Homo sapiens: one gene and its partners. The protein of the gene in region 3 interacts with the protein of the main gene of each other region in a pairwise test. Each region holds a gene or a part of one and is shown on either strand. Other genes may lie near its edges.

Region 1 (7,181 bases), on a different chromosome or scaffold from region 3:
GTCTCCTTCTCTGTCTCTCCCCAAGAATTACCCACCCTAAGTAAGATTAGCGACAGCCAGGCTGGGGCTCAGAAATAATATGGGAAATGGTGGGGTCCTGGCATTAGGGGACCTGCCTCACCTCCCCATTCCGGGTCTCAATGGTCTTGATCAGAACCGTCTTCCGGCTGTGGCTGTCCTGGGGAGGCTCCACCTCAGGCACTGAAGAAAGCAGGATAAAGGGTTCAAGGGGGAAGGCGTGGGAATCTCTCCTCTTAGGCTCCCACTGCTATCCCTGAGGGCAGGGGAGGGGCGGGTTTGAGGAGTAGGGGTGGGTACAGGCCAGGACCCAGAAGTTCCGTGGGGAGAAGAGATCCCTGAGGTGAGCCAGAGCAAGAGCCCGAGGAGGGCAGAAGTGGACAAGGAGAGGTACAGGCTGTAAGCCAGACTCACCAGTCGTCTTTATATTTAAGGAGGCAAAAGAATGGACGGGCACGGAGATCCTAGAGGCGAAGCAAGTTGTCAGCGCCCCTGCCCAGGCCCCGCCCTGCCCGGCCCAGTCCCGACCCCGCCCTGCCCCGCCCCAGCAGCTCCACCCTCACCGGCTCTCCTCGCCCTCCAGCAGCTTGCGGTAGGTGGCGATCTCGATGTCCAGGGCCATCTTGACGTTGAGGAGCTCCTGGTACTCCCTCAGGTGCCGCGCCATCTCCTCTTTTAGCTGTCGCAGCTCCTCCTCGAGCCGCGCAGCGCCCGCCTGGTAGCCCCCCGCCTCCAGGGCGAACTGCTCCTCCAGCTCTCTCAACTGCCTGAGCAGCGCCTCGTTCTGGGGTAGGAGAGTGGAAGGGGCCAGTTGCAGAACATTTCATCGTCCGCTCCCCGGGCCCGAGCGCGCAGCTTCGTACTCACCGTGCCGCGCAGCCCGTCCACCTCGCACGTTAGACTCTGGATCTGGCGTCGGGACTCGTTCATCTCCTGCTTGGCCTGGCGCAGGGCCTCGTGGTTCCGGTTGGCAGCGTCGGACAGGTCCGCGTACTGAGAAGTGGGGGTAACCCAGGCTTTAGTCGGCTGGGACGCGCGACACCACCCCAGCGTCCCGCCTCGCAGGCCCTCCCGGCTCTTGCACCTTGGACTTGTACCACTCCTCCGCCTCCTGCAGGTTCTTCGCGGCGATGCTCTCGTACTGCGCGCGGATGTCCCTCAGCGCTGCCGTCAGCTCGGGCTTCACCGTGGCTTCCACCTCCACCTGCTGCACCTGCTGGCTCTCCACACTCACCTGCAGGTCTCGCAGCTCCTACGGCCGGGAGCAGGCAGAGGATGGACAGCGGCGCAAATTCCACGCGGGCCACGCAGTTCGTGCACAGAAAAGAGAAGAAACGCTTGAACGAACAGAAGTGGGCGCCAGGGAGGGCAGGGCGTACAGCCCTGCGCCCCCGCGGGCGCGAGACCAGAGGCCAGGTTTCGGAGGTACAGCCCCGCTGCCCGCCGCCAGGTGGCGCAAGGGTGGGAGTCTAACCACCTGTAGACTAGGGTGGAGGGGCTGCGTCTACCCAGCATCGTCCTGATCCCCAGGGCGATGCCTCCGCTCCACCCGCCAGCTCCAGCGAGACCACCCCACAACCTCAGAAACCGCCCCTGATACCGGGCCCACTTACCTCCTCGTGCAGCTTCTTGAGGAACTCAATCTCATCCATCAGAGACTCAATCTTGCGCTCTAGTTCCAGGCGGGACAGAGTGGCATCGTCCACGTCCTTCGAGGGGTGGCAGTGGAGGTTCAAGATAAGTTAGGGGCTGCGCAGACCAAGGAAGGACCAGGCCTTCCCTGTCTGCCTCAGGAGGCATCTGGGTTACCCCCTTCTCCCCGCGCCCACCGATGCCACCTCTGGATACTGAGATCGGGGGTAGCGGTGGGGAGGCTGAACTCGGAGAGGGGCTCGGACTCACCTTGCGGAAGAGCACGAGGTTGTGCTCCGCGTCCTCCCGCTTGCGCGTCTCCTCCTCCAACCTGACGGGAAGAGCGTGCAGAGGCTGAACTGCGGGGTCGCCGCCCAGCTCGCACCCCAGACCGCACGCCCCCCAGGATCCGGTTAGAGGCTGTTCTGCTGCCCAGGACTCTAAATGGAGGGCTGAGGCTGTCTAATGGAATTGCCCCGCATTGTCTCTAACGGACTGGGAGCTGAAAAGGGGGTTTCCTCATTACTCAGGGGAGGCACAGATACCCACTTCTCCCACCTCCCCAAACACTCAGAGCAAAGGGGTAGCGGGGGGCACTTGGAGCCCGTGGGCAGGGATGCTGCCCGCACACACCTGGGTTGGTAAGGGGAGCCACACCCTTGGGCTGCTGATGGAGAGGGGAAGCGAGGGGAGGCAAGAGCAGCCGCCTCGACGGCCGCTTCGACCTCGCCTCGACGGCAGCGGCCCAGCCCTGCCCCCTGACCTCTGCTTGAGCGCCGCCAGGTCCTCCGCCAGCCCGTCGCGCTCCACCTGCACCCGGTCACGCTCGCGGCCCAACAGCTCCAGCTCTCGCCGCAGCTCGCGCAGCTCCTGCTGGCACAGCTGGTCGGCGCGCGCCGGCTCCTGGCCCCGGGCTTGGCTCAGCTCCCCGCGCAGGGCCGCGTTCTGCTGCTCCAGAAAGCGTACCTTCTCGATGAAGTTGGCGAAGCGGTCGTTGAGCTCCTGCAGCTCCTGCTTCTCGTTGCTGCGCGTGGCCAGGAACTCCTGGTTGAGGGCCTCGGCCATGGAGAAGTCGAGGCGCTCCGAGGGCAGGCGCAGGAGGGCGCCCGCTCCCGCTCGGGGGCTACGGAAGCTGCCCAGGCGCACCGAGGAGCTCGGGGACGCGGAGCCCAGCAGGCGGCTGCTGGAGAAGCGGGAGCTGGACGAGTAGGAGAAGGCCCCGGGGGATAGTGAGGGCGGTGGACCGAAGGTACGGCGGTATGAGGTGGAGCTGAAGCCGGCCCGGAGGCCCGACGGGTGGTGGCTCATTGCGGCCAAGGATGGGCAGTCACCGTTCGCAGAGCTAGGCCGGGGGCTGGGAAGGAGCCGCAGACCGCTGCGAGGCGGCTTTATAGCCCTGCGGTCTCAGGGGGGGCACGGGCAGCTCCTCCCACTGGCCTGATGGCCCGCTGGAGGGGGGTTGTATGGGGAGGGGGATGCCCCACCCCTGCGGAACAGCAGGAGCGCCTTCCCCTCCCTTCCCTGGTTGCAGGCCTCTACCCACTTGATTGCCCCCTGTTGCCGCTGGGGTGGGGGTCACTTCCTCCCAACAAGCACCCAAAGCTAGAACCTAGGGTAGGAAGGCCTGACTTGAACTAGAGTCCCTGAAAATTGCGAGGTAGAAGGACCTGAAGTTAAAGGGCAGGCTTCTGGCACAGGAGTAGGGAGGAGGCCAGCTGGAGGGAGAGTTGACCTGGCTTAGGCCCCATAGCTAGTGCCTTGACTTGCCCCCTGAAGGCCAGGCTCTATTTTCACCTGCTGTCAGCTACCCCTCCTTCACCACACCCAGAGAGGAATAGGAGACAGGGGCGCAGAGGCAGATCGGGCTGGGGAAGAGCTACTCTCCCTAATCCCCAGGGCCCTGTGAAGGGCTGGTGCCTGGCGCCAGCTCTGCTGCTAATGGGCTGACCAGCCCCCCTCCCCCTCCCCTGAAGACGGCCCAGCAGAGGTTGTCTGCTGATGTTTCAGCCTTAAAGACACAGCCCCCAAACCTAGACCTACCCCGCAACAAGCCCCAATGAGGTGGGTACATCATAGGGGGCTGAGGGTGGCTGGACCCAGCTCTGGATCCCACTCGGGAGGGTCTGCCCCATGCCACGGGCTGGGCTAAGTGGGCCTTTTGTATTCTGTCTTGGTTTACTGGATTCTCCCTCCCCCCAACCCCACACCAATTGCTGCTCAGTCATGGGCTTTACAGGAACCAGAGTGATTCCTGAGGTAGGAAGGGGAGGGGGCTGAGGGGCAACAGCGGCTGCCAAGGCTGAGAGATGGATGGACTGGCAGGAGCTGGTTTCCAGTATTGATGAGTTGCAGGTACCAGGGATGGGTGGGGCTGGATGGGGAAGAGATGGGGAAAGAGAAAGTGCCCATCCCCAGCAGTCTGAAAGAGAGAAGGCCCCAGAACAGGTCCACAAACCTGCGCACGCAAACAGATGCATACACACAGCTTTGTATATCTATGCGCACACACACTACATACACACACATACACACACAATCACACATCCCACCACACCCTCCCCTACTCCAGAGTTAGCGAGAAGGCTGATATCTGGCCTTTGTATGTCAAACAGCTTCCAGAATGCAAGCACAACCTGCCCAGGAGTGGACAGAGGCAGCTCGGATGGTCTGCAGGAGCCGGGTTGCTGAGGTCTGCTGGGTTTGCCAGGAACCATAGGGCTGGGGCTGCTGCTGCTGCTGGGGACTCCAGCGCTGTCCTGTGAGACAGGTCTGCCTCAGATGGGACCTGAGGACAAGAGAGTGCATCTGGGGAAGCAGGTTTCAGGTTCCTGCCTGGATATCTGGCTGGGGGTAAGGAGGGCGGCTCCCTGGCTGGCCAGCTCCTCAGTATTGCAGGGCAGCAGCCCCCTCCCCCCTTTGTGCGTCCTGTGAGATGGGCCAGGGCCAACGCCCTGCTCACGTCCCTACCGCCTTCGTCTCCTTTCCAGGCCCCTCCTTCCTTCCGGGCCATTAGTCTCTCCCTGCACAGCTGCCAGTTCCTTCTCCTTGATGGGTCTGGTTTGGTTGCCAGGGGAGTGGGAAGCGGGAGGAAGGGAGAGATGGGACAGGACGAATAAATGACAGCTTGGCCTCCCCTAACTCCTGGGAATTGGGAGGGGTAGGGTCCCACCCGGGATAGGGCCGGGAGGCTTGGTGGGTGTGAGGAGGGGCTAGGGAAGCCTTGGTGCTTCCTGCCGCAGTCCTGGGCACTGAGCCCCAGCTGCTGTTGGCCTGGAGCCCCATCTATCCCGGATTTGGCCCCACCCTCCAGGAGCAGGGAGCCAGCTCTGCATCAGGAGAGGCGGGCAAGGCCTGGGGAGGACCAGCTCAGGCCCTGTCTACAGGGCACTAGTGGGGGACCCAAGCCTCTGAGAGTAGAGGCTGCTGGGGCTGCAGCTGGGCCTGGGGAGTTCCAGATGGAGTTCCCGTCCTCACCCTGCTTAAGGGCTCCGCTGGCCACCTACATGCCTCGGAGGAGAAGGGACAGAGGGCTGCCACAGCAGGGCTCTGGAGCTGTGGATCAGGCCTGGGTGGGGAACTGCCAGGCAGAAGAGGCTCCTCCCCTAAAGCAGAAGGAGCAGGCCAGCAACTCCAGGCGGAGCAAAGGTAGGCAAAGAGTCTGGGTTAAGAGCCGGGCTCTGGCATCCAGCTGCCACACTTCCCATCTGATCCACCACTCTGTTGTAGAATTTAGGCTCGTCACTACGTCCCTTCATGTCCCTCAAGAAAAGGGAGATAACTAACTGTAGCTTCTACCTCATAGTGTTGTTGGGAGGACTAAAGGAATAAATAAATACATGTGAAGTGCTTAGGACACACATCTTAAAGCCTGAAAATGGAAGCTGGTTTTATTATTGCTATTATTATTAACCTCCAGAGTGATAATGTCAGCCCCAAGAGCAGTGAGAGTCTGGGCTTCTTTTGGACTGTGCCCCTGGTTGCTGAAAGTAGTGCTTGGACCCAAGGCGGAAGAAGCCAAGTCCTCCCTGGCCTCATCCTCCCCTGGTGGACCGGGACTCTGGGCAGATGGTGCAGGTTCATTCATGGCTGCTCACCTTAATTAGCTGTGTGCTTTGGGTTTTCTGAGTGACTTAACCTCTGTTCACCCCATTTTCTTTCTTTCTTTCTTTCTCTCTTTCTTTCTTTTTTCTTCCTTTTTTTTTTTTTGAGACATAGTCTCGCTCTGTCGCCCAGGCTGGAGTGCAGTGGCACGATCTCAGCTCACTGCAAGCTCCGCCTCCCGGGTTCACGCCATTCTCCTGCCTCAGCCTCCTGAGTAGCTGGGATGACTGGCGCCTGCTACCACGCCCGGCTAATTTTTTCATATTTTTGGTAGAGACGGTGCTTCACCATGTTAGCTAGGATGGTCTCGATCTCCTGACCGTGATCCACCTGTCTCGGCCTCCCAAAGTGCTGGGATTACAGGCATAAGCCACCGCGCCTGGCCACCCCATTTTCTTTATCCACAAATGGGAATGATAATAACAGTACTTACCTCATGGTGTTGGGAGGATTAAACGAGTTACCCTCTGTAAAGCACTTGTGCTTGGCACCTAGTACATGCTGTAGAAGTATTTGCCAGTATTCTCATCGCTCCTCCTCCTCCTGCCTCCCTTGGCTGCTCTGATGAAGGCTGGAAGAGAAACAACTATTGCATGTGTTCAGGGGTTTGCAGGGAAGGTGAGTAACGAAGTTTAGGTTACTGGCAAGAGTGCTATTTTTAAATTAAATTAAATTAAATTTTTTTTGAGAGAGAGTCTTGCTCTGTTGCCCAGGCTGGAGTGCAGTGGCATGATCTCAGCTCACTGCAACCTCCACCTCCTGGGATCAAGCGATTCTCCTGCCTCAGCCTCCCGAGTAGCTGGGATTACAGGTACCTGCCACCATGCCTGGCTAATTTTTGTACTTTAGTAGAGACGGGGTTTCATTATGTAGGTCAAGCTGGTCTCGAACTCCTGATCTCAAATGGTCCGCCTGCCTCGGCCTCCCAAAGAGCTGGGATTACAGGCGTGAGCCACCACGCCTGGCCAAGAGTGCTATTAAATGTCAGGCCACGGGCTCAAAGCTGGATTAGGAGGGCATGTAGGCAAGAGAGAGTGGGAGATTGGGAGAGTAAAGAGATCCATGGCTGGCCAAAGAACAGTCATAGAACAAAGACATGCCAGTGGAGCACAGTGGTTTACGCCTGTAATCCCAGCACTTTGGGAGGCTGAGGCGGGCGGATCACAAGGTCAGGAGATCAAGACCATCCTGGCTAACATGGTGAAACCCTGTCTCTACTAAAAATACAAAAAATTAGCCGGGCGTGGTGGCGGGCACCTGTAGTCCCAGCTACTGGAGAGGCTGAGGCAGGAGAATGGTGTGAACCCAGGAGGTGGAGCTTGCAGTGAGCGGAGATCGCGCCACTGCACTCCAGCCTGGGTGACAGAGCGAGACTCCATCTCAAAAAACAAACAAACAAATTAGCCGGGCGTGGTAGCATACGCCGGTAA
Region 2 (5,227 bases), on a different chromosome or scaffold from region 3:
CTATCTTTCAAAAGTAAATGTAATAAAAATGCACAACATAAAATGTTTATGATCCCAGCAATACACTTTTTAAAAAATGTGAAAGTCAAAGAATTAAGTTCTAGTTCTGACTCATCACAAGAGGTCAAAAGTATTTGCTACTGTAACATTCAATTCACATTTGAGAATCATGGTAAAAATAACTTGCATTTGCCTTACCATCATGATCCTACTGTTGAGTTAGGAAAATATGGTTAGACAGACTCACATTACTTTTTTTCAGAGGTAAACTCTAGATTACTGTGTCAACCCAATACTATTTGGCCATAGATGTAAAAACTACCAAATAAAAGTGGATTTTGTGGTCTACAACATTTTGTGTAAAGTGAATTCATGTCTGCTAACACCGTTAAGTCTGCCATTTAATCCAGAGTGTTAGACTACTAATGAATATGGTAAGGAAAATATAAAATATTAACGGTATATGCTATTTGAGGAATTTTAAGTCTCACAGGCTTTAGTTTTATTTCCATACATGTTTATTATATACACACTGCCTATAGATTCTGTTTAAATAATCTCTAAGAAAAAAATCAAACTTTTCTGAGCAGGTGATTAAGCTGAAAACAACCAATTAAAACCACCACTTTTTAAGTGACCTTTGGTCACAAATGTCAAAATGTTTCCACACCCTTTCCACCCTCAAACAAGAGACAAACTGTTTTTGATAAACTCTAGTATTTATTAAATTATAAATTTTGTAATCAAAAAGAAAAATGCAGACCAAAAAAACCTCAAACTATAAGACTAGACAGCAAAGCCTATGGGAACACCATGAAGTGTGTTACAAACATTCTGAAACATAAGTTACTGGCTGTTTTCATTTCCATTTCAATAACTTTACTATAAAATAGTTGTTATTCATCTATTTTGAAATCCCAAATTCACATCTATTCATACATTAAATTATGTTTCCTGTTCATAATATCAAACATCTCACAGGTGCCAAATTTTAGTAATGGTCTTATGCCAATCCATGCAGAAAAATAAGACACAATGCAGGAGTCAGATGAGGACCATTAATGCACAGATAATACAAACACACTGGCCAAAAGAACTACAGAAGTTTTTAAAAAGTATAAAGTAAACAGACCTCAAGAAAACTGGGTTATTACTAAACAGCTCTCAACTATTAACACCCAAGTTCCTTACATTAAATAAATTTCTCAACAGAGACATGTTAGACATTTTAATTATGAGTCTATCCTTCCCATACCCCTTCCCACCCCAACTCCCAAAATGCACTACTAGGGATGAGTATAATGTTATGTGGGCAGAAATTTACAGGTAACCCTTTCAACCTTGAGCATGGAGCTGAAGACATTTTTATTTAAACTTCAGTTACTGTGCACTGTCCATCAGGCCTTCTAGATCTGACACTGACACTCACTGTTCCACCCCCTGCTACTGATCGATCAGTTCCCGATCGATCTGATCGATCGGGTACTGTCTGGTTTGCATTAGAAACCAAAAGTCTCTGTTGGGTCAAGGAGTGCTGTGCAACAACTGCAGATACATCCTCACTATCACTACTGGCATCTGATTCAGTTTCTTCAATGGAGGTGTCTGGTGCTGGTACCCTGCCTGAAGATGGTGATTCATGATCTTCTTCTCCTTCTCCCCTATGACTCCTTTCAGCTGTGTTGTCTCCACTGAGTTGTAAATGAGCAAAAGAGTCTTCCAGAGAAGTGCTTGCATCAGGGGATGGTGTTGCAGGGCTTGTTAACTGACCATCTACTGATGTTAGGGGCCTTACAGAAGACACTAGGGGCTGAACAGAAGCTCCACTCTGTGCTGATACACTGTCCGCTCCGTCAGCAGAGCTCTCTCTTGCTAGGTTTACGGTATTAGCATCACAGTCTAGCCTAAGTCCAGCTACTCCCTTCTTTGGTATATCTATTATATCTCGCTTAATCTTCCTGCGACGTCCATGTTCATTTCTCCTATATTGAACCATGTTTTCAAGATCAGCGACATACAGAAAGCCAGCAATTAACATTTCAGTGTTCTTTTTACCTTTGGAAAAAGCATCTTCCAGCTCTCTACTAGTGCGCTCATCGTACTGCCACCACCCATTTCTTCCTTCATAATACCATGCATATTCACCATTTCCTCTACTTGCTGCCTTGAGTTCTTCTGGTGACAACAAGGTTGGCTTGTCAAGGAAATCCTCGGGAATTTCTTGTCGACAAAGAGCACACCGCTTTCCAAGCCATGAAGCTCCTTTTACACATAGATAGCAGAAAACGTGCTTACAGGGCAGACTGACTGGATGAACACATGTTTGCAGACAAATGGCACATTCAGGGACGGTTAAAGAAGGTGCAGTATTAGAACAGGACTCGTTCGCTTTCCTGTTTGTAGGAAGCATGTTTATTGAATGATCAATTTCACCACAGCCAGCCATCCTAAGAAAAAATACATATAATATTAAAGTCATGTTTTAATTCTTGCAATATCTTAATTTAACAATTATGAAAACACTAACCACCTATGATGTGCATTATATGCAAGCCACATACTAGACAATGGGGATATGAAGATGAAAGTAGAGGAAAAACTCTCCAACCGATGAAAATTTTTTGTAAGCATCTACTTGTACATACCTTGGGAATGTATAAAAATTCCATCAGTGCACTTAACAGATCAGCCCTGGAGAAACACACTGAAGAACTATATAATGAAAAGCTGCATCCAGTGAGGGGAAAAGGATACCTTGAATCATGGCAGCTATTATACAGTGAAATGAATGCTAGACAAGAAATCTAAAAATCTGAGTTTTAGAGTCCTTTATTAATTATGTGCTCTTAGGCACTCAGTTAAACCATTAGTCTAAATTTCCTTACCTGCAAATCAGAGTTTACAAAGCTCAGGTAAAAATGGACAAAAAAAGTGCTTTGTAATCACTAAAGCTTCATAAAGGTAACAATCATATAAGACCAAAGGAGAAAATAACATGAATATTGAAGATCCCCTGAAGAGGAAGAAGAAAAAAGATTTGTCAAATTGGATGTATCTAGCTTAAACACTGACATAAAATTTATAATTTCTGCCTTATTGATTCAGATAAACATTTACTAAACACCTGCCATGTTCCAGATACAATACTAAGTACTGATGGGTCTAAAGATAAATAAGACACACAACTACTCTGTTAAATAAGGAAACATACATGCAGATAATTACAATATGGCCTGATTCCTGCGTAATCAAAATGTGTTAACATACTTACTAAAATAACAGTAAGAGAGAGATGAGAGGATGGACATAGGTTAGAAAGTTTAGTGTTCATTCAGAGGGGCTGGGCAGTGGAGCAGATTCCAGGCAGAAGCACATGCAAGACACTGAGTCAAATAGTCATACAAGCAATGGAAGAGCAGGAGATGAAGGTGTAAAGGTAATCAAAAGTTAAGTCATGAAAGCCTTATTGTGTTATTGTGCCCTGCCAAGGAAACATCTAATTTTTTTCCCCATGGTAAAAAAAAAAAAAAAAAGACATTTTAAAAGGGGAGAAAATAATGGAGTAAACCACTGATAAGTAAAAAAGACTGAGAAATAAAGATGAAGATGTCAGAGATTGAAAGCTTAAAATGAATGACAATCTCTCTGCCAGCTAATTCTGCCATTCTAAATGGGTCAGTAGTTACAAAAGATATAGTCAACAAGAATGCTTACGCTCATCAAAAATTGAAAAACAATAATCCTAGGCTATCATCACAGCACATTCAATCTTCAAACAATCCTTTTTTTTCTTTTTACTGCCTTTTCTGTGTTCTTGGTTCCTCAATAGACAAGGCTCAAAAAGATGGCAATTTTCTAGTAAAGGAAGCAACACAGTAAGTTTTTAAAAAGATGGCACATATCTAGTAAAGGAACCAACACAGTCTCAATGGAAGAACTGATCACTAAAATGTTTAATTTCCAAATTATTTTCAACTTTTAATAACATTTCCAATCAATTCCTTTACCAGAAATTCTAGGTTATAGACATCAAGAAAGTACAACTTTCTCCTAACCTATGGAAAGTTCTAAGTCAGGGGTGTCTAATCTTTTGGTTTCCCTGGGCCACACTGGAAGAAAAAGAATTGTCTTGGGCCACACATAAAATGCATTAACACTAATGATAGCTGATAAGCTAAAAAAAAAAATCACATAATGTTTTAAGAAAGCTTATGAATTTGTGTTAGGCCGCTTTCAAAGCCATCCTGGGCCACATGTGGCCCACAAGTTGGATAAGCTTGTTCTAAGTAAACCCTAATAGGACGTCTTAGTATGTTAAGCACTATAAAAGCTTTCAAATATTTTGAGATAAACACTTGCCTTCAAAGATCTTGTAACTTGAAACAACAATAAGTTACAAAAGAAGGCATATGTTTTTAAAATAGCCAATTACACATTCCCTGCCTATTTCCTCCCCTAAAAGAATTGGCTGTGCACACATTTTGTTAGGTTTTCAGAAACTTTCATCCCTTTCGATTTAGGTCAAAAAAGTTAGTTTCCATAAAATTCCTGAAAATCTTTTTGTTCCAAGTTCCATATTTATTTAAAGCTCCAATTAAGAAAAAGAAAACAAGAAAGTGATCCATTTACAAGTAATAATTTAAGAAAGATTCTACTCATGATTCTATTCATGAGACTAAATAGAAAAATGGGCTGATGACCACCATTACTTTGGAAAAACAACAGCAACATCTTCATATAAGAAGTCTACATCTTAAACCATCTAAGTACCTTATGAACAAAGGACAGGATCATAAACTGAAAACATAAATAAAAACAGAGTCTGGTAAAATGAAAACAAGACACCCAACATGTCACGTGGACCAATGCCATGCTTTTAAATACATAATTCCAAACCTATTGTATTTGCTTTAAGTAAAATGGGCCCAAGAAGTCAGTTTTCCATCACATACAGCTCGTTTATCTACAGAAAAAAAAGTTTCCAACCTAAAAACATTATCCTCCACCCTACTTAATATGATTAATATTTTGCATGACTCTTACTCTTGCATTTATGAATAAACCAAAACACATAATTTCAAAACTAAGAAAGCAATTACAATCATCCCAGGAGAAGGCATGAATTATAATAACATAATTGGAAAGGCAAAACAATCCTGTTTGTGCAGGTATTTTGGTTCCATCATCAGAATGAAGTGAAGTTGGACAAAGTTAATCTGCAAACAAT
Region 3 (7,028 bases):
TGTGAGCCACCGCACCCGGCCACTCACAACTCTTAATCTCCACTCTAACCACTGCATGAGTAAATCCTCCAGAACATTCCTTAGGGACTTAATTCTCTATTATACTTTTGTGTATAGAATATAAAATCTAATGTAGATGATACTATATATACATGTTTGTTCTGTGTTTGCAGGGACCAAACTTTACAGACCACATACTCAGAAATGCATAAATGTAAATAGCTTCACATTTGATCTTTTTAAAGAGAGATTCCATTCAGTTAAATAACACAGTCAAGTTCTTGTAATTTCTTTTTCTCCCAACCTTTTATTTTGAAAAATTTTAAACCTACAAAAAAGTTGAAAGAAACGTATAATAAAACACTTGTAGGCTGGGCTCGGTGGCTCACGCTTGTAATCCCAGCACTTTGGAAGGCTGAGGCAGAGGGATCGCTTGAGCCCAGGAGTTCGAGACCAGCCTGGGCAACATAGCGAGACCCTGTCTGTACCAAAAATAAAAAAATTAGCCAGGTGTGGTGCCTGCCTGTAGTCCCAGCTACGGGAAGCTGAGGCAGAAGGATTGCTTTAGCCCAGGAGGTTGATGCTGCAGTGAGCTGAGATCTCGCCACTGTAATCCAGCCTGGATGACAGAATGAGACCCTGTCTCAAAACAAAAAACAAAAAAAACCAACCAAACGCTAGTGTATCCTTTAGTTTCACCATTTGTTAACATTTGCCACGTTTGATTTCTCTTTTTCTCCTTCTATACGTATATGTGAAATGCACAAATTTTTTTGCAGAGTCATTTGAAAGTAGTCACAGATACCCTAACACTTAAATACTTCAGCTTGTATCACTTTAGAAAAAAGGCATTCTTGGCTGGGCATGGTGGCACACACCTGTATTCCTAGCACTTTGAGAGGCCAAGGTGGGTGGATAGCTTGAGCCTAGGAGACCAGCCCAGGCAACATAGTGAGACCCCGTCTCTACAAATACAAAAAAAGTAGGCATGCTGTGTGCGCCTGTGGGCCCAGCTACTTAGGAGGCTGAGGTGGGAGGGTGGCTTGAGTCCAGGAGGTCGAAACTGCAGTGAGCCATGATCGTGCTACAGCACTCCAGCCTGGGCAACAGAGTGAGACCCTGTCTCAAAAAAAAAAGAAAAAAGAAAAAAAGAAAAATAAAAGAAAAAGGGATTCTCTTATAGAACATCAATTCCATATTACACCCAAGAAAGTTAACATTAATTCAGTAATACTATATCCAAATTTTTCTAGTTGTCCCTCAGAATTCCTTCATAGCTGTTCTTTTTTTGCAATCCAGGATCCGATCAGTGTTCACATACTACATTTTGTTCTCATGTCTTTTTAGTCTCCTTTAATTTAGAACCGTCCCCCTTGCCTTTTGTTGTTCTTGGTGTTTTGGATGACGCTGACATTTTAAGAGTCCTGACCAGCTGTCCTGTATAATGTTTCACAATCTGGATTTATTGTTTCCCTATGATTAGATTCAGATTAAACATTTTTTGGCAAGAATACTATGTAGGTGATATTATTTCCCATTACATCATATTAGAAGGTACAGAAAGTAACTTTATCCCATCACGGATGTTATGAAGTTGGATCACTTGGCTTAGGTGTTTTCATCACGTCCTGCTCCATTATAGAGGTACATTTTCCCCTTTTTAATTAATATGCTATCTGGTGGGTGATCCTTTGAGACCATCTGAATATCCTATTCCCCAACAACCATTCTGCATTTTGTTTTAGTTTCTGAATTTTGCTAGATAATGGTTTTTCATGTATACCTGGCACTCACGTATTGAATATTCTCTCCCTAAGTGATTCCAACAAAAATAAAACAAATTTAATACTGTGTTAGCCAAAAAGAGACTCCATTAAGTCGATTTTTAAAATTTTTTATTATTTTTATTTTTTATTGCTATAAAACAGTTGTACATATTTAGGACCCATCAGTTTTGAAAATTACATAAAAGAAGGGAAGAAAATGTCTTCCCTAAAATAATATCAGCACATATACTGAACATTTTAGATTTCATTGTGTAGGCTGCAAATATGGAAATTCAGTGAGTTAGTTCACCCACATTTAAATTAAAATAGCACAATTATTTTTAACTTAATTGGTTATTTCTGTTATGACTCATCAAATTCTCAGGCCTCTGTTTATCCTGTAACAGTTTAAAGCATGACTTCTGAGCCTCTTACTTTCTACTCTGCCCAGAATCCTGGCCGTTTGTCATGGGGTCATGTATAAACAGCTCTCAGCCTGGATGCTCCATGGACTCCTCTTGGACCAGCATGAAGAATTCTTTATCAAACAGGGGCCATCTTCTGGTAATGTCAGTGCCCAGCCAGAAGAGGACGAGGAGGATCTGGGCATTGGGGGACTGACAGGAAAACAACTGAGAGAACTGCAGGACTTGGTGAGAGCCCAAAAAGTAGCCTAGCACTCTCCTGCCAGGAGTCAGAAAAGCATGCACACAAATGATCTTCTGGTGATCCCTTCTTAGCTCATAGCTGAGCACCTTCCATCAATCCTTTCGATGTAAACATTCGGCTTTATCTTAACTAGTGTGAGACTATAAAATAGAAAATATGTTTGTGATATTCTTTTTGTTTCCTCTTTCCCAATATATGCATTTGAGAGATTATAAGTCTTACTTATGTAGCTACTCTAATGGAGCAGCTAGCTACATTTTAGATTTTAAATACAGTTTGGAGTTTTGTTTTTTTTTTTAAAGACAGATTCTCACCCATCGCCCAGGCTGGAGTGCGATGGCGCAATCTTGGCTCACTGCAGCCACTGCCTCCCAGGTTCAAGCAATTCTCCTGCCTTAGCCTCCCAAGTACCTGGAACCAGGCATGTGCCACCATGCCTAGCTAATTTTCATATTTTTTATTTTCATATTTTTAGTAGAGACAGGGTTTTGTCATGTTGGCCAGGCTGGTCTCGAACGCCTGACCTCAGGTGATCCACCCGCCTCGGCCTGTAAGTGTTGGGATTACAGGCATGAGCCACCGTGCCTGGCCAGTTTGGTGTTTTGATTAGACTCCTCAAAGTTCTACATTGTCCATATTCATCCATTCATCCATCCATCCATTCATTCATTTATCCTGTGGCAATATTTCATTGAATGCCTGTTATGTGCTAGGCATTGTTCTAGGTGCTACAAATAAAAAGTAGTAGTGTCTGTCCCTAAGGAGCTCATAGTTTAGGGGAAGAGATATAGAAAAGTAAACAGTTACATTACAGTGTGCTAAGGGCTCTGAAAAGACTAAATATGGGTATTCTTGGAACATGGTCATGGGATAGGGTCTTGGAGTGACTAGGGAAGGCTTTTCAGTGGAAGGTATGTCTAAATTGCAAAGAGTTTGGGAGGAGCCATCAAGAGACATCCAGGCAGAAGGAATGATATGTGTAAAGGTACAGGGGCCATTAAGGACATGGTTCATTTGGGGAAACAGTAGTAATTCAATTGAAATGATCAAATAAAGGCTGAAGTAAAATGTTACAAGAGATGGTGTGAGGGAGAGGTGGTACTTGAAACTGTGTAAGTTGGTACTTGATGAAACTTGAGTTAAGCAGAGGCAAGATCACAAAGGTGCATGTAAACAGTGGAAATGAGTTTGTACTTGAACCTGAAAAGAGTTGGGGGCTATTGAATTTTAAGCAAGTGGGTACCACAGTCAGACTTCATGATAAATCACTCTGGATGCTGTGTGGGGAATCATTTTTTAAAAATCAAGATTAGAGGCAGGTCGATCAGTTAAGAGAGTGTTGGGGAGACTTAGGTGAAAATAATAGTCCCCTAAACCAAAGATACTAACATTGAATATGAAAAAAGAGCAAAGAGGTGTGAGAGATGTTTAGAGGGTGGAATCAGTAGGCTTAGTGAGTGCTTGGAAATGAGTCAAGAGGGAAGAATCATTGATGATACCCAGGTTTCTGCCTTCAGCAGCTGGGCAAGTAGTGACGATAGGGGTGTATACTGCTGGTATGCGGGGAAGAAGATGGGTCTAATGGGGGGCATGTTGAGTTTGAGGAACTTGTGGGAAATGTTCAGTGGGCTGAGCCTGGGGCTCATGAGAGCACTCCAGCTTACTTTAAATCTACATATGGAATCATCAGCATGGGGCTTGGAGGTTTTTAATCTGGGGCCCTTGGGTGGCTTCAGGAGGTTCATGAAATGTTATATGTCTGTACATTTGTCTGGAAGATCCATAGCTTTTATGATTGCAGAGAGGTCTGTGACCTAAAAATTAAAACTATCTGTTACACTGATCAGTCACAGAAGACGATGTGATTGTATAGGAAGTGTAGGCTGAGAGGAAAAGACAGTCTGGGACAGTGCCCTGAGGAGCACCAGCAGAGAAGACATAGAGAGAAGACCTGGAAAACAAAAAAGACCACCTCTTTCATCGTACAAGTAAGGAAGCTGGTCGACTGTGCAAGTTTTTACTCAGTAGTAAAGGCAGAGTGAGGGCCCAAATCCCAGTATTTAAGCCACTCTTATTTCCACCATGCCACTCTGCTGCCTGAAGATGAAATACATCTCTCCAAAATGGGTGGTTTGAGAACTGTGCAACACCAGATTTGAAGTCCCTGCGTCTTTATTTTAAATCATGGGTTGGGAGAGTTACTAGGTATTTTCTTGTTTTCCTTTTCTTGCTTCACACTGCATCTCGATGTGTACTCTTTCCTTGACTAGCGCCTGATTGAGGAAGAGAACATGCTGGCACCATCTCTGAAGCAGTTTTCCCTACGAGTGGAGATTTTGCCATCCTACATTCCAGTGAGGGTTGCTGAAAAAATCCTATTTGTTGGAGAATCTGTCCAGATGTTTGAGAATCAAAATGTGAACCTGACTAGAAAAGGTAGAAATCTCCTTGTCCAATGTACCACACCCTCAAAATCTCTTCTTCCTTAATACTATGTGGCCCCACAGCATGCCTGGTCAGAGCGAGTGGTCGATAATATTCCTATCCTGAGATTGTAGCAGAATCATGACGTTTGTCTGAGAAGCAGGTGAAGTTGCTGCCCCACTGAGATTAGCCCTCCCCAGAAAACCCTAACTGTCCTGGGTATTCTCCGTCCTCCTTTGACGGTGTCTTCCTATTTTGCAGGATCCATTTTGAAAAACCAGGAAGACACTTTTGCTGCAGAGCTGCACCGTCTCAAGCAGCAGCCACTCTTCAGCTTGGTGGACTTTGAACAGGTGGTGGATCGCATTCGCAGCACTGTGGCTGAGGTTTGTGTTTCATCGTATATATATATATATATATATATATATATATATTTTTTTTTTTTTTTTTTTTTTTCTTAGGCAAAATTGGACTAGTTTCCTAGAAATTGAGTTACTTGGTCGGGCGCAGTGGCTCACGCATGCAGTCTCAACACTTTGGGAGGCCAAGGCAAGTGGATCATCTGAGGTCAGGAGTTCAAGACCAGCCCGGCCAACATGGTGAAACCCCGTCTCTACTGAAAATACAAAAATTAGTCGGGTGTGGTGGCATGCACCTGTAGTCCCAGCTACTTACGAGGCTGAGGCAGGAGAATCGCTTGAACCCGGGAGGCGGAGGTTGCAGTCAGCCGAGATCACACCATTGCACTCCAACCTGGGCAACAGAGCAAGACTCTGTCTCCAAAAAAAAAAAAAAAAAAAAAAAAGACACTGAGTTACTTGACTTTTGTTTTTATCTTGATGTCTTGATGAGTTAAGAACCGAGCTTGGAAAGAAATGTTGCAGAGAGTTGAAGGCAGAAAGTAGAAAAGAAAAGCCTCTGTTTTCATTAACAGAGGCAGAACTGCCTTCCCATTTTCCTATCTAACTAAAAGACAGGTGGTTTTTAGTTGGTTAGTTAGTTGAATAAAGGGGGGATCTTGGTTTAAATTCTGAAAATCAGCATTTTGGATCTGTCTCTATCGTTTGCAATAACTCCTAGGAATCAACTAATTCTGACTAAATTTTGTGTCTTGTAGTTTAGTATGGCTCATAACTTATACTTTCATTTCTATACACAATCATCTTATGAGGAAAGCAGAACAAATATTATTTTCTCATTCTTATAAATGAAGCAAACACTCAGCAAGCTGACTTGTCTGGCTTGCCTGGTGTGGCACAGTGAGTAGCCATAGTGAGGTCAGTGCCAGGCCTCCGACTCCTGGTGCACAGTCTTCTTCATTTTGAATTGTGCTGGTGCCACCGACTTAAATTGTGACCAGTAATTTTTCAAAGGAGCATATATGTTCTGTGGCTTATATTAACATTTGTCTCATGGATATGTGATAACACGAAATGAGACATTTAGTCAGCTGTGTTGTTAACTATATTCCTGGCTTTCAACATTGGCTAAGCATAGAATCGCATGAGAAAATTTTATTTTTTATTTTTTATCTTTTTATGGAGTCTTGCTGTGTCACCCAGGTTGGAGTGCAATGGTGTGATCTCGGCTCACTGCAACCTCTGCCTCCTGGGTTCAAGCGATTCTCCCGCCTCAGCCTCCCAAGTAGCTGGGATTACAGGCACACATCACCATGCCCAGCTAATTTTTGTATTTTTAGTAGAGATGGGGTTTCACCATGTTGGCCAGGCTGGTCTCAAACTCGTGAGCTCAAGTGATCCTCCCACCTCAGCCTCCCAAAGTCCTGGGATTATAGATGTGAGCCACTGCGCCTGGCCCGCATGAGGAAATTTTAAAACCTGCACTTGCACCAAGTCCTTACTTCCAGAGCTTCTGATTCATAGGTCAGGAGAGGGTAGGTACCTTTATTTTATTTTATTTTTGAGACAGGGTCTTGCTTTGTCACCCAGGCTGAAGTGCAGTGGAGCAGTCGCGGCTCACTACAAACTCCGCCTCCCGGGTTGAAGCAATTCACGTGCCTCAGCCTCCTGAGTAGCTGGGACTGCAGGCCTGCACCAGCATGCCTGGCAAACTTTTTTGTATTTTAATAGAGATGGGGGTTTCACCATGTTGGCCAGGCTGGTCTTGAACGTTTGGGCTCAAGTGATCCTCCTGCCTTGGCCTCCCAAA
Region 4 (7,402 bases), on a different chromosome or scaffold from region 3:
AAGCCTAGGCGGGCGGATCACTTGAGGTCAGGAGATTGAGACCAGCCTGGCCAACATGGTGAAACCCCATCTCTACTAAAAATACAAAAAAATTAGCCTGGCATGGTGGCAGGCGCCTGTAATCCCAGCTACTCGGGAGGCTGCGGCAGAATCGCTTGAACCCGGGAGGCAGAGGTTGCAGTGAGCCAAGATGGCGCCACTGAACACCAGCCTGGGTGACAGAGCAAGACTCCATCTCAAAAAAAAAAAAAAAAAAATAGAAACGAAGTCTTGCTTTCCTGCCCAGGCTCGTCTTGAATGCCTGGCCTCAAGTGATCTTCCCACCTCAGCCTCCCAAAGTGCTGGGATTACAGGTGTGAGCCACTGCACCTGGCCCCTGCCATTTCTTTGTTGCAAAAGCCATACAATCAAATAGAAAACAAATTCACTGGCCATTGCACCACCTAACACTACCAGCTGGCATATCACTACCCAGCCCTTGGGAAGAAGGGCAAACTGACAGGAGCCCAGTGCCCCGTCATGCCCAGCCTGTGCTGGGTGCCCCCTGAACGGTCTCACTTAGTCTGCACCAGTGGGTGCTCTCTCACCTCCATTTCACAGATGGCAACAAAGCCTAGTGGCTCAAAGGCTGTGTCTGAGGCCATGCAGCCAGGAAGCCAGGAGCCTAGAAGCTGGTGGTGATTGTGATACCGCCCCCCCCCCCTCCTTACTTGCCCCACGTGCCGCAGGAGGCCATCTTTCTTTGTACTCAGGCAGTCTTTATAAAGTTAAGACTAGTGTGAGACAAATTTGTATCCTATTTCTTTGTCATACTGCAGCAAAAATGTTTCTGCTTATTGCTACACAGTTGTCACACAAACTACCTGCTAAGGACACTCTTGAGGATGAAGGTCCCCCATTTCCCACTTGCTGCCTTGTACTGGACACTAAAGCCCTTTCTGGTTTGGAGGGTTCTCATTAAGGCTGCAGTAAATGCTTGTGGGTAGGCATCTCTTCTTCATTTCATTCCTTCATTTGACAAACATTTATGGAGTTTTCTAGATGCCAGGATACAATGGTAAAAGGAGCACAGGCCCTGCCTTGACTGAAGAGATGGATAATAACCAACATCTGTGTGCCTCAGGAACAAATGAAGATGGTAAGAGGTATGGAGGGGAAGCAATGGTCTCCAGTTGGTCCAGATGGCCAAGTAAGGCCTCAGTCACAAGAAACATCAGAGGAGGGGCAGGAAGGTGAGAGGAGAGAATGGGCAGTGCAAGGGCCTGAGCAGGGGGGCACTTGGTACAATCCAAACATAGCAAGGCAGCCCGTGCCGCCCCAGTGCAGTGAGGGACTGAGGGCAGAGGAGCAGCAGACTCTCATGAGGACTTGGGCTTTTACTCAGAGAGGCAGGGAGGCATTACAGGAGGATGAGCCAAGGAGGAGCATACTCTGACTTGCTTTTGTAAATGGGCCCCACCGGCTACTCCTGGGGAAAGAGAGTGGGAGGAAGACAGGCTTGAAGCCAGGGGACCATGCCCAAGGAGGCTCTTCTGCCCAGTATGCAGATCCTGGTGGGGTCCAGACTACCCCACCATCCTCAAGCCCGCCCCCCAAGGAGGCCTACAGGACCAAGGCTGCAGAGCCAGTAAGAGGCCAGACCTTCCAGGGCTTCATGCTAGTTCCTGGGGCTGAGAGGCAGGGCTAGGACACATGGACACAACTAGTCATGTGCAAATACTCCACCCTCTGCATAAGGAAACCAGCCACAACTTAAGTGGAGACAGTTTATGTGAAAGGAGGTGTGCCCACCAACAAAACATCACGTTGTTGCCTGATGTTTGGAGCAATTTGGGAAAACCCCCACAAAAAGTGAAAAATGCATGAAATAAATAAAACTGTGTCCTCCATACCGATGAGGCACAGGGAAAGAAAAGTGCCTGGCAGGGCTGGCCGCAAGGGTGGTTGTGTTTCTTTCAAGGCTGCATCTACTCAGAAGAGGGACATTTCCACATACTGAGCATGTGCCACCCACTGGAAGCTGTGCTGAGGACCATGAGTGCAGGATCTCATTTAATCCTCACCACGACCAGGGAGGTGAGTGCAAGGAATCTCACAGATGGGGAAACTGAAGCTTAGAGGCACCAGCTAGCATCTGAAAGGACAGTAATGGAGCTGGACAGGCCCAGTCCCTGACCACAGTACTTCTCCCTACCTGGTCCAAACACTGATGCTGAGACTCACTCACCCATTGTCTCCACCAAATACATAAATGGCATCTTTATAGGCCACCACTGTGTGCTTGCTGCGCCTGGAAAGAAAGGAGTGGAGGGCGGTAAGGACAGGACCCTCCTGGGGGGCACCCAAGGAATGGGACTAAGCAGGAGAGCTGCCACGGAAGTTAGGTATCACCTCTCAACTGCTAAGATCCATCATCTTCTAAGATAACACCAATCATCCTGCAAGTGAGGACCCCTGACACGGCTCCAGGACTCTCTGGACTCCTCACCCCACCTCAGAGCACCTGGGACCCCAGCCCAATATCCACAAACACAACTTAGTTCCAGTACCCTGTCCCGGGACATCGGGCTCTGGGACTCCCTCGGAACCCTCTCCCCTGCCCTGAACAGCGTCCTGTACAGCACCATCCACCTCATTACCAGATCCTACCCCAGGACACCACCCCCCGGCTTCGCCCCTGGACCCGCCCTGGGACCCTCGCAGATCGCCCTTCCTGTCCTCAGGACCCCATGAAGCCCACCGTACCGGGCACCCACGAACTCGTCGCAGGGCGGGAGGCGCCGCCAGCGATGCACTGTTTCGAAGGGCCCGAAGTTGAGCGTCAGGTACTCGACACTGTCCGAGCAGCTATGGTCGAAGTCCACGCTCGGGGCTACCTTGGACCGCGCGCCGCCTGCCAGGGCCGCAGCCCCGATCTGCCCCCCCGTGCTGCCCGGTCCAGCCATCCCGGGTCCACGCCGGATCGGCCGCGCTGTAAGCCCAACTTGCGGCCACCGCCCCGGGCCGGCTGGAGAAACCACATTTCCCGGCGAGCCCTGCGCTGACGGTGCGGCACGTCCGGCCAGCGCCGCACTTGCGCCCTCCAGCTCTTCCCGACAAGCCTACCGCTTGCCGAGACACCGCGGGCGAGCGCAGGATGCGGTTGTCGACCGCGCGGCGAGCGTGGGACCTTCTGGGGAGCGTTTCAGGCTATGTACTGGCGCTGCGTTGTCCCTTCCAGTGAATGCAGTGTGTCGTCCCTAGCCCCGTCGCGACTGCTCTTCCCGGCGCCTCCCAGGCCCACGCAGCCCGAAGACCCGCGGCCGGCTCGCAGTTCCCGGCATGCCCTGGGTCTGCGCGTGGCTCCGGCCTGGATCGTCTGCCGCTGCCGGGATCCCCCATGGAGGGTTCCGGGCTCGCAGCGGCCTCTGCAGGCGGCTCAACGCTCCCTTTCCTGCTAGCGCCCTCAGCCCTGACCCCCAGCAACTCCCCTCTCCCCTTGGCTTTCTTACTGACTGAGAGGCAGCCCGGCGAGGAGCCTCTGGATTCTCATTCCTACTTAGCAGGGCCTCAGCTCCTTCACCTCCGACATGGGGATTGAGAATGCTCCGGCTATGAAAAGCATGGGGTCTGTCTCAGGACACAGCTCCCACAGCCCTAAGTGGGCAAATGCCCCAAAGTGTCAAGCATGAGCCACCTCTGAAGGAGCATTTACTATCTCAAGACCTTTGGGCATGTTGTCCCTTCTACCTGGAATACCCTTCCTTCAAAACTCAGAGCCAAAAGCAAAAAGCGTTCGCTGATCGCAGAGGGGGAGAGGGATGTGGGAGGGCTTGGGGCGCAGAATTAGTTGCTACCTCCTCTGGGCGTTCACAGGCCAAATTTCCTTGGTGTGGCACCTGGCATTCTGTGATTGTGCCTGTTTCCCTGTGGTCTGGTCCTGTGCCTATTGGCCCAATTACACTGGGAGTCATACAGATCTGCAAATTTGTGCGTTTTAATTTTACGGTAATGTTTAACGTGTTGCAGGGTTCTTCAGGGGACCAGTCCCAATAGAGGGAGAAGAGGCAGGGCTTGTCCTGCCTCCAGTGCCAGCTGTCAGTGGCAGCAGAGGCCTTGAGGGTTGAGCATCTTCTGGATCCAGCAGAGGCCTCCCAGGAGGGGAGCCAGGTGGCTGAAGGCAAGCACTGGGAGGGCTCAGGTTCTGCCCTGGGGGATCCTGGGACTGGAGATTGGCACCTGCCCCCAAGGCTTGGCCTGTGCCCTTGGTGCCCCCTTTGCCTGCCCAAGTCTACTGCATGTGAGCTCAGGATCCTTTCCCCGTAAGCCAGGACATGTCGCCAGTCCTGCAGGAGTGAGGGGAGGAGGGGTCAAGACAGAAGAAAACAGGCTCTCCACTCTGGGCACCCTGAACAGCTGGCCCTTGAGGACAGCAGGGGGTCTGTTCTGTGCCAGACCCTAGTGCCCAGCAGGGAGGTGTACTTGGACAGAGGGAGATAAGACCATTGGGTGGAGGGTCTGGGCTGACATGGGAAAGGCTCAGAACGGTCAACATGAAGGACACACGTACTTGCTGTGCAGCACAAACAGCCTTCACGAAGGCAAGAGAGAGAAACGGAGAGAAGGCCAAGGAGAGAGCATGTCATTTATCATGTCCCCTTCTGGTCCTCCATTGTTTCCAGCCTGAAGCCTGCCCCTGTCTCATAGCCTCCCAGTGGCCTCCAGGCTGTCCCCAGTCCCTGGGAGCTCTCTCCCAGAGGGTGAATCTCATTGACACCACACCAGGATAAGGGAACTGGCTGGTGTTGAGTGAAACCTAGAACCACCCCCACCATCTATGTGGAGGGCATACCCAGGGCATCAGTAGCTGCATTTCCCACCTAGCTTCTGCCAGGCTCAGCACAACTATGTCCAGTTAGGTGTCCCACGCCTGGTGATTGCCCATGCATTGGGCCCTGACCCCTTCCCACAGCACTGGCCCTGCCTGGTGACACACATCTCTATCCCTTCCATCCACCATGAACACATAACCAGCCTGCTCTCAAACCATGATCCTTGCCCCACACCTCCCTGTAGTCCTGTAAGCCTCAGGCGATGCAAACCAAGAGGGGAAAGGCCCTGGAGGGTTGTGGGGGCGGCTGGCTGTCATAGGCACCTTAGCCAGTACTCCAGGGAACTACTCCCACCCCCAGGCTTCCCACACCCACACTCACTCCACCTCCCGCTTCCGGATGGCACGGCCTGAGGCCAGCACCTCAGCGACCTTGGACACAATGGGATCGTAGTTCATGCTGGCCACGGCGATCACCTCGTCGCCTCTGCAAGGAGAGGATGGCCAAGCCTGAGGACTGCGAGGCAGCAGCCCCTTTTTGAAAACCCTGATGCACTGCTGTCCATCTGGGGCCCAGGGAAGGACCTACCCCAGGGCAACAAGAATGGCCTGAGCACCCAGCCCTCCCTGCTTTGCACATCGCGGCTTGACCGTGCACAAGCTTCGGGCTTTCCTAAGGAAGCTCCAGCACTCCTCAGCGGGGCTCAGGGCTGGGCTCTTGTTCTGGGATTTTGCCTGGGATGAATCCCCCTTCCCGACTGAGCTCCCGCTGCTTCGCGCCAAGCTGCACCCCGGTGCTCTCACTTAGTGTAAAAAGCCACAAACTTCAGCTCCTCCAGATCCCCCTGGATGATGACGTCGTCGAAGCCTTCTCCGTAGCCTGTGGGCCGGGCAGGTGGGTGGCACCCACGTGAGCCGGGGGAGGGAACGAGACGTCACAGGATCCCCTCCTAACCCCGCCCAGGCCCTGCTCCATACGTCCTTTTAGGTAGTTCGTAGCCTTGCCGCCAGCGAGTTCTTACCGGCCTCTTCCTAGTGCGGTCATAGCCCTGCCCCTAGGCTCCCAGCCCCGCCCCACACCCAAGCCCCGCCCCTAAACGCCCTCGGCCCCGCCCCCATCCGAGGCCCCGGGGTTACCCGCGTAGCGCAGGCTCTTGCCAAACATGGCGGTCCAGAGGTAGGGCACAGTGCTCATCTCCGCCTCCTGCGCCAACATGTTCTGGGCTGCCACGCGCCCTGCGGGACCCAGGGCCGTGAGAACCCTAACTCTCGCTCTTACCACTCCCACACTACCTGCTCCTGATGCCCTGGGGACCCCTGACACGTGTGGCTACTCCTCCTGGTCTCCCCAGAGGTCAAGAGACATCATTGTTCAGCCCACTGCTCACTTGCACCTGCAGCTGACTGGTGCAGGGGAACACCTGCCTCAAAGCTAGCCACTTGATTGCTTCCTTAAAGAATCTGAATAAAGTGCCCTGACTCTGGAAGGTCTGCTTCTTGGGGTTGGGGGAGTACGCCACCATTTCAGCTGTGCACACAGACACCTAATCAGACGTATCAGGTCTGAAGAGGGAGGAAAATGGGGCACAAGTACACAGGGAAGCACAGATGACAGCCACACACAAGGCCCCAAAGAGACCAGTGTGGATGGCTCCCCAGTTCCTATGAGGCCCCAGTAGACCCCTGTAGTTGGATGTACTTCAAAGTCCCCTAAACTCTCTCAGTTAAATCCTAATTATACTTGGCTGATAAGTTGCCTTGGTTACTTACAACCTAGCAACAACTTTCGACTTTGGACTTGAATAGAAATTGGTACCAGAAGTGGGGTTTCAAGCAGCAGACCCTCAGGTGTAAAGGCAGAGGAAAGGGGAGATGGGTGCAGAGAAGTCCTTTGTCCCAGGCTGGGAGTCTGGCAGTCCTCTCTCTGAGGCAGTGAGGCAACTAATGTGATGGCACCTGCAGCTTAGGGGCCCAGACCAGATGTGCACAGTGGATGAGGCTTGGGGGACTTGGTGGCCAGCAAACATCAGGAGGGGAAAGCTATTCCTCAGAAAGCACAGTGCCTCCACTGAGCCCACGTCTCTGGGCTCAGATGGCACCTCGGGGACCTGCATGAGGCTGAACTGAGTTCACAGAGATACTTGAGTGGCCCAAGGGAAACAGAGGCATAAATGGGAAGGTGATCCACTAAATCCCTCCCTCCCTCCCCAGGGTAATGCACAGGTTGATCAGGAATTCTGCAGAATATATGTCCTTGAAGACAAAAAAGGGAGAGACTACCAGAAGGAAAACTGAGATTGAGGAGCTATGGCTGGCTCAGTGGGGTGTCGCTCTCTGTGTTGGCTGGATCGCCGAGATGAGGCTGGCCAGAGAATCCACATCAGAGCTTTGATGCCTAACAGTGTCCAGGACCCAAGGTCAGCAACTGAGGCATGGGCATGGGGACACTGAGACCCTGAGACTCCCTCCCACCCCTCCATGTGCCTCGGGACTGGCCATACCCTGAGCATGAGCCATCTGCCAATGTGGAATGTTCACTTTGCGGTTGTTCCTCCAGGCAAGGGGGAAGGTGACAGCATCGCCAGCTGCAAA

What was found.
Region 1: the proteins of TUBGCP4 (region 3) and PRPH interact in binary tests that used the Homo sapiens proteins (3 or more experiments, as listed by UniProt).
Region 2: the proteins of TUBGCP4 (region 3) and RNF146 interact in binary tests that used the Homo sapiens proteins (3 or more experiments, as listed by UniProt).
Region 4: the proteins of TUBGCP4 (region 3) and LZTR1 interact in binary tests that used the Homo sapiens proteins (3 or more experiments, as listed by UniProt).

Annotation. Positions count from the first base shown.
Region 1 is NC_000012.12:49,290,978-49,298,158, reverse strand, and holds the start of PRPH (peripherin), read right to left. Parts: upstream 3,013-7,181; 5' UTR 2,959-3,012; coding exon 2,414-2,958; exon of another isoform or gene 1,982-2,413; coding exon 1,921-1,981; exon of another isoform or gene 1,728-1,920; coding exon 1,632-1,727; exon of another isoform or gene 1,575-1,631; intron 1,444-1,574; exon of another isoform or gene 1,271-1,443; coding exon 1,103-1,270; exon of another isoform or gene 1,012-1,102; coding exon 886-1,011; exon of another isoform or gene 803-885; coding exon 582-802; exon of another isoform or gene 483-581; coding exon 433-482; intron 202-432; coding exon 122-201; intron 1-121. UniProt on the Homo sapiens protein: Class-III neuronal intermediate filament protein.
Region 2 is NC_000006.12:127,283,836-127,289,062, reverse strand, and holds the end of RNF146 (E3 ubiquitin-protein ligase RNF146), read right to left. Parts: exon of another isoform or gene 3,715-5,227; intron 3,014-3,714; exon of another isoform or gene 2,886-3,013; intron 2,448-2,885; coding exon 1,370-2,447; 3' UTR 501-1,369; downstream 1-500. UniProt on the Homo sapiens protein: E3 ubiquitin-protein ligase that specifically binds poly-ADP-ribosylated (PARsylated) proteins and mediates their ubiquitination and subsequent degradation. May regulate many important biological processes, such as cell survival and DNA damage response.
Region 3 is NC_000015.10:43,381,086-43,388,113, forward strand, and holds part of TUBGCP4 (gamma-tubulin complex component 4), read left to right. Parts: intron 1-2,217; coding exon 2,218-2,419; intron 2,420-4,705; coding exon 4,706-4,871; intron 4,872-5,120; coding exon 5,121-5,245; intron 5,246-7,028. UniProt on the Homo sapiens protein: Component of the gamma-tubulin ring complex (gTuRC) which mediates microtubule nucleation.
Region 4 is NC_000022.11:20,977,915-20,985,316, reverse strand, and holds the start of LZTR1 (leucine-zipper-like transcriptional regulator 1), read right to left. Parts: upstream 3,021-7,402; 5' UTR 2,946-3,020; coding exon 2,746-2,945; intron 2,291-2,745; coding exon 2,228-2,290; intron 1-2,227. Other genes in the region: AIFM3 (apoptosis-inducing factor 3), read right to left, coding at 4,286-4,325, 4,550-4,570, 5,193-5,297, 5,615-5,690, 5,948-6,046, 7,312-7,402. UniProt on the Homo sapiens protein: Substrate-specific adapter of a BCR (BTB-CUL3-RBX1) E3 ubiquitin-protein ligase complex that mediates ubiquitination of Ras (K-Ras/KRAS, N-Ras/NRAS and H-Ras/HRAS).